2 linked regions of the Homo sapiens genome follow. The protein of the gene in region 1 interacts with the protein of each later gene in a pairwise test. Each region holds a gene or a part of one and is shown in the gene's direction. Other genes may lie near its edges.

Region 1 (3,500 bases):
CGGAGGCACCAGGGAAAGGCACTTGAATGAAGAAGGAAAATGAGAACCAGATTGTAACTTCGTCCTAATCCACCTGCCAGAACTTTCCTTCAGGTGTCACACATCCATTTCCATCCTAATATTAAACAATATAATGAAAGAAAGCTTTACAACAAGTCTAAATAGTTTTTATTTTCGGGCAGTCTTTTAACAAAGCAAAGCAACCGTGTGAGTTAGGTCACCAGAGACACCAAGCAATGGTGAAGGACCCCCTCCGCCCAATTCTCTATCCAACTAAATTTCCATGCCCAAAGTGATAGCTATCATTTTTTCCACGGTGTATCTGCAAATCCACCCACTGTCCCGGGGTGGCTGGGAGCTTTTTAACGGGTTGAGAGTTGCTTTTTAAGGTTGTGGGTGAGCTGAGATGGGTGACTGTGTCTTCAGGAGACACTACCATTTGGTTTGATTTTGGTTTGATTTGCAGGTGTCATCAATAAACAGAGTTCTTCGCAACCTGGCTAGCGAAAAGCAACAGATGGGCGCAGACGGCATGTATGATAAACTAAGGATGTTGAACGGGCAGACCGGAAGCTGGGGCACCCGCCCTGGTTGGTATCCGGGGACTTCGGTGCCAGGGCAACCTACGCAAGGTAAAACCCAAGCAGCCATCCACGCAGCTCTCCATATGTGCATCCCTTTGCCTGTCCCCTACTCTCCCAACCATTTCCTCTCAGGGCTTCCATGCTTGGGGAATGTCATGGGTGAGACTGCATTTGAAGGCCTGGGACACATCGACCACATTGTATGTAGGTGGTGTTTGTTGAACCATTTTGTTGGCCTGGGAATGTGAGGGTTGTGTATGTCAGGAGCGGTATGAAGGTGGCTGGTGGGTGCGTGTGTGTGTTTGTGGGCAGCACTGTGTGCATAAGAACGAGCTGCGTGGTGCACTATTCAAATTTGACATTAGAATGCAGGGAGAGCCCCCTTGTAGAAGTGTGACAAGATAACGCACTGACAGACTGCGAGGTTAACATAATTGTATCCTGTTGCTTTTTGCTGTAATTGACAAATTATGTGACTATGAGTAGGGTGCACATGAAAAGGTGAGCAGGGAGATGCAGGGCGAGTCGGGGATGGGGCATTGGAAGTGGTGGTCTCCCAACTAAAACCACCCCACTATCCTTGCCCCTCCCCCGTTCGCCCCTCTGGGTCCCACTTTCTCACTCTCTGTGGGTGGCGACTATGTGGAAGTGGTGAGGTGAAGATACTGTGAGCAGGACGGCGGGATGCCGGGAGCCGCTCTGGTCTGGGAGGAGAGATGGGACCTGAAACACCCCAGGTTCTGTGAGAAGGGCTGGAGGAAGAAGAGCGGGGGATGGGGGGGGTGGGGCGGAGGGGAGGGTCAGTTGGCTCCCCTCCGCTCCCCTCCACACCCCGAGGTAGCTTGGTCAAGAATAGGAAACAGTTTACTCCGAAGATTAATCGGTATTTGTTGTCCTCGTGACAAGGAGATAATATGCGGGATAATGGGACGTGGCGTCTCACTCCCAGGAGCACAACGGAGCCGAGGGGCTCGGGGCCAGGGGCGGCGCGCGGGACTGCGAGGAGGCTGCCGGCGCATCCGTGAGCTCTCGGACCGGCTCCGGATGCCCGGCGCCTCCATGGAGTCGGGCGAGGGAAGGGAAAATCGGTAACAGTATGCGAAATATCTGGTACAAAGGATGCTTCTGTCACTCGCAAGAATTTGTTATGGGAACAATCCTGTCGCTCTGTAATTGCTCATTAGAGAACGTTTTGTTTCTCATTAAGGCGACATGAATAAGCGTCTAGTTGAAGGAGACAGCTGTAGAAATGTTCCACAAGAGACCTCTGGACACGATTCGGCACCAATTGCCAATTAGACATGTCAGTTTTAAGAGCAGAAAACAATATAGGACGGACACTGGGAAGATAGGGAGCAAAGCGCTCGCTTCTTGTTTCCCAGCGCGGCCGCTCGGCCGGCGGAGGCCTCCTGACGCGCGGGGCCCGGGCTCCCCTGGGCGACCCCGCCCGCACGGGCCCCGAACCCGCCGCCTCCGCGAGCTCAGAGGGCCCCCAGGCCCGCTCCCGCCTCTGGTGAGACTAGCGATTGACCCCACCGAGTGTAGGCAACCCCATCCCTGCCTGACTTTTGAAACCGTAGGATTCCCACTTGTAGACACTGGACACACCCAAGTGACACCCGAACTTCGCACTCACGAGCGTCCACCCCTCCGCCCCCAGCAATCTGAGGTCCTGGTGATCCCTCCCCTGACAAGAGTCTGGCCCACTTAGTCCGAGAAGTCTTGGGGAGGGACTCAGGGCACGGTGGCCTAGGCCTGGGAGGGCTGAGCCCAGAGCCTCCACTCCGGGCTCTCCCCGGTGCGTGGGCTCCCATGAGCTTGGGGCGCAGGATACACCCCCCTTCCGCTTCTTGGAGTTGGGCAGAAGCCGAGGACAGCAGCTTCCACCAGAGGTGGCGCCCGATTCGGGCGGATTTTCGTCGCCGGCAGTCTGAGGGCGGGAAGTGAGAGTCAAATCAGCTAGGGTCCGCCTGTGATGGTTGGGGCCGGAGGTGGAGCTAGTCCAGGGGCTTTTCACTTTAACGCGCCTAGTTGCTAGAAAATTCTGGGTCAACTGGCAATCACCACCCCCCCACCCGCAAGTGAGGTTTTTGGGGGGTGATTGTCACCTCAGGCACAGGACCGTCGCCCCTAGTTGCGTGGGGAGGACACGTGGGCCAAACGAAGCACAGAGTTGCCGGCGTGGGGGTAGCGGGCACCGGTGGTGAGCTTCGCTTCACGTTCCCGGGGAATCCTCAGACTTTTTGGTGCTAAGAGGGTCCCCCTCCCTCCCTAGCCCCCTTTCCCAGCCCAGGAAGCCTTTCTTGGGTTTTAAAGAGTCCATACTCCAAAAGCATAAGGCGGGGGTTAGGTCTCAGAGGGAGACAAATATGGTTTCCATCTGATCAACGCCATGCGGCGGTGAATAAAATCGCGACGACGTGGGCTGACAACAACAAGAGACAACTCTATCCAGCCCCAATTCTCCGGCGATTTGGTGGTTTTAGGGATCACGGAGACACTTTTTCTTATCTCCTCCCCTCACCCCACCCCCACCCCCCATAATACCCAAGCCCTCTATAGGATTTAGTCAGCCTCTCTTTCAACAGATGCTACAATGTTTTGATCCGCGCTCCAGAGCTGAAAAGGTGCCGCAACCGGGTTGCTATCTTTTCTTGCTTGTTTTCCGCCTCACTGATTAAGACACTAAGAAACTAAGGAATGATTTTATTTCCCAGCAACTCTCTCTCTGTCTCTCTCTCTCTCTCTCTCTCTCACCTCCTTCCAGGAAACAAATCCTATTCCCATCGTCAGATGGTCCTGGGGCTGGGATAATGGGAGGCGCTTTCACTCGCTTTCTCACGGATTAGGCTGGAAGGTGAACGGCACCCACTGAAGGCCCCTGCTTTGCGCGGCTCCGAGGGGGCGCCTTTTGAA
Region 2 (3,500 bases), on another chromosome or scaffold:
CAGACTGGTCTCGAACTCCTGACCTCAGGTGATCCACCCGCCTCAGCCTCCCAAAGTGCTGGGATTACAGGCATGAACCACCACGCCCAGCCAAATTTTTGTATTTTTAGTAAAGATGGGGTTTCACCATGTTGGCCAGGCTGGTCTTGAACTCCTAACCTCAAGTGATCCACCCACCTCGGCTTCCCAAAGTGGCAGGATTACAGGCATGAGCCACCGTGCCCTGCCACCATAATACTTTTTGAGTGAGTACATGAAAAATAGTTATCATGGTGCCCAACACATAGTAGGTGCTCAATAAATACTTGTTGCATGAATGAATGAATGAAAAAGTTATCAGAGTACCTGGCACACAGTAGACACTAATACTTGTTGAGTGAGTGAATAAAAGAGTTATGGTGCCCAACATGTAGTAGGTGCTCAATAAATACTTCCTGAATGGATGAATGAATGAATGAATAAATGAAAAAGTTATTACAGTGCCTGGTGCACAGTAAGCAGTTAAAAAGTACTTTTTGAGTGAATAGATGAAAAAAGTTATCACAGTGCCCACTACACAGTAGGCACTCAATAAATACTTGTTGAGTGAGTGAATAAATGAAAAACAGATATCATGGTGCTTGATACGTAGTACGTGTTCAAGAAATACTTGAATAAATGAATGAAAGAGCTGTCACAGTGTTTGGCACATAGTAGGCACTCAATAACTATTTTTATTTATTTATTTTTTTACTGAGACAGCGTCTCACTCTTGTCGCCCAGGCTGGAGTGCAATGGCGCGATCTCAGATCACTGCAACTTCCACTCCCTGGGTTCAAGCGATTCTCCTGCCTCAGCCTACCTAGTAGCTGGGATTACAGGCACCCGCACCACGCCCCGCTAATTTTTGTAATTTTAGTAGAGATGGGGTTTCACCATGTTGGCCAGGCTGGCCTGGAACTCCTGACCTTAGGTGATCTACCCATCTCCACCTCCCAAAGTGCTGGGATTACAGGCATGAGCCACTGCGCCGGGCCCATAACTGTTTTTTGAATGAGTAAATGAAAAATTATTATCACAGTGCCAGGACACAGTAGGCACTCAATAAATACTTGTTAAGTGAGTGAATGAATGAAAATTGCACTCAATAAATACTTGTTGAGTGAGTGAGTGAATGAAAATCAGTTACTGTGATGCCTGACACATAGTAGATGCTCAATAAATACTTGTATGAGTGAATAAAAAAGTTATTACAGTGCCTAGCACACAGCAGGCACTCAATGCTTGTAAAAATGAATGAATGAGGTTGGGTGTGGTGGCTTCCACCTGTAATCCTAGCACTTTGGGAGACCGAGGTGGGTGGATCACCTGAGGTCAGGAATTTGAGACCAGCCTGGCCAACATGGGGAATCCCATCTCTACTAAAAACACAAAAATTAGCCGGGCATGGTGGCAGGCACCTGTAATCCCAGCTACTTGGGAGGCTGAGGCAGGAGAATCACTTGAACCCAGGAGGTGGAGGTTGCAGTGAGCCGAGATCGTGCCACTGCACTCCAGCCTGGGCGACAGAGCGAGACTCCGTCTCAAAGAAAAAAAAAAAGAACGAATGAAAAATTCATTGCATAAATACTTGTTGAATGAATGAATGAACTCCCAGCAGGTCCCTGCCCAATTTTAAGGCAAGTTCCAGATTTTACACCAGGGTCTCGGGTGCCCTCCCAGGGCCTCAGTTCCTTTTTTTTTTTTTTTTTTTTGGACGGAGTTTCTGTCTTGCTGCCCAGGCTGGAGTGCAGTGGTGAGATCTTGGCTCACTGCAACCTCCACCTCCCGGGCTCAAGTGATTCTCCTGCCTCAGCCTCCTGAATAGCTGGGATTACAGGTGCATGCCACCACACCTGGGTATTTTTGTATTTTTAGTAGAGATGGGATTTCACCATGTTGGCCAGGCTGGTCTCGAACTCCTGACCTCAGGTGTTCCACCCTCCTCAGCCTCCCAAAGTGTTGGGATTACAGGCGTGAGCCACCGTGCCCGACCTTAGTTTCCCCTTCTTGTAACATGGGCACAGTATGTGCCCACAGCCGGCCTAGCCCTCCTGCCACCTGCTGTCACTCCCCATCCATCCTGCTCTGCAGATTTTAACAACGACGACTACATTTGTGCGTGGGACCTGGAGCAGACGGTGACCAAACTGACGCGGGGGGGGCTGAGTGCCGAGGAGGTGAGCCTGGTATGTGAGAAGGTGCTGGATGAGGCTGATGGAGACCATGATGGGCGGCTGTCCCTGGAAGATTTCCAGAACATGATCCTCCGGGCACCAGACTTCCTCAGGTGATGCTCTCCGTCACCGCCCACAGTCCATTTGCACATCTGAAGGGGCTCTTACGCAGACAGTTCACAGACTCTGTTTCTGAAAATTCCTCTATTCATTCTTTCATGACCTTGGGAAACTTTCTCAATTTCCCTAGTCTCAGTCCCTGCATCTGTAAAATGGGGATAATTAGGGACCCCCTGGGCACCTCTTGCGAGTGGATACACCTCTTTCAGCAAGCAGAATGTGGCTGGACTTCAGCCCTTGTTGCCTGAACAGTTTGCAGTGAACAGACTGTGTAACTGTACTTGGCAGCCTTTGGGGAAAATCAGCCGCCACTGCAGGGCAAAGTACGGCCAATAGGCCAGTCTGACCCAAAGCCTGGTTTTGTACCTCCTGTGAGCTAAGAATGGCTTTTATATTTTCAAAAGATCAAAAAACAATCAAAGAATAATAATATTCCAACCAGGTGGGGTGGTTCATGCCTTTAATCCCAGCACTTTGGGAGGCTAAGTGGGGAGGATCTCTTGACCCCAGGAGCTTGAGACCAAACTGGGGAACATAAGGAGAGTCCATATCTACAAATAAATAAATAAATAAATAGCCAGGTATGGTGGTGCATGCCTGTAGTCCCAGCTACTTGGGAGGCTGAGGCGGGAGGATTGCTTGAGCCCAGGAGGTCAAGGCCGCAGTGAGCTCAGATTGTGCCATGCACTCCAGCCTGGGTCACAGAGTGAGATTCTGTCTCAAAAATAAATAAACACATTAAAAATTTTTTTTTAATTTAAAAAAAGATTATTCCATGACACGTGACAGTGATACGAAATTCACTTTTCTGTGTCCATCAGTAAAGTTGTATTGGCTCACAGCCACACCCATTTGTGTACATTTTGTCTATGGCTGCTTGTGTGCTTCAACAACAGAGTTGCGTCATGGTATAAAGTTGAAAACATCAACTATTTGGCCATTTACAGAAAAAGGTTTGCTGAACCCCAAATTAATATATGGAGAAAATTCAGCACAGCTCCTGGCACACAATAGGTGTTTAATAAATTGCTGTTGCTATTATTATCTTATAATTTTTAAATTTCACTTTATTTTTTATTTTTTGAATTGACAAATAATGATTGTACATATTCATGGGGTACACAGTGATGTTTCTTTTTGTTTGTTTGTTTGTTTTGAGACGGAGTCTTGCTCTGTTGCCCAGGC

The links.
Region 2: the proteins of PAX6 (region 1) and CIB3 interact in binary tests that used the Homo sapiens proteins (3 or more experiments, as listed by UniProt).

The regions. Positions count from the first base shown.
Region 1 is NC_000011.10:31,797,823-31,801,322, reverse strand, and holds part of PAX6 (paired box protein Pax-6), read left to right. Parts: exon of another isoform or gene 1-93; intron 94-466; coding exon 467-632; intron 633-661; exon of another isoform or gene 662-784; intron 785-3,500. UniProt on the Homo sapiens protein: Transcription factor with important functions in the development of the eye, nose, central nervous system and pancreas. Required for the differentiation of pancreatic islet alpha cells.
Region 2 is NC_000019.10:16,163,526-16,167,025, reverse strand, and holds part of CIB3 (calcium and integrin-binding family member 3), read left to right. Parts: intron 1-2,112; coding exon 2,113-2,308; intron 2,309-3,500. UniProt on the Homo sapiens protein: Acts a an auxiliary subunit of the sensory mechanoelectrical transduction (MET) channel in hair cells. Plays a role in regulating hair cell MET channel localization and function.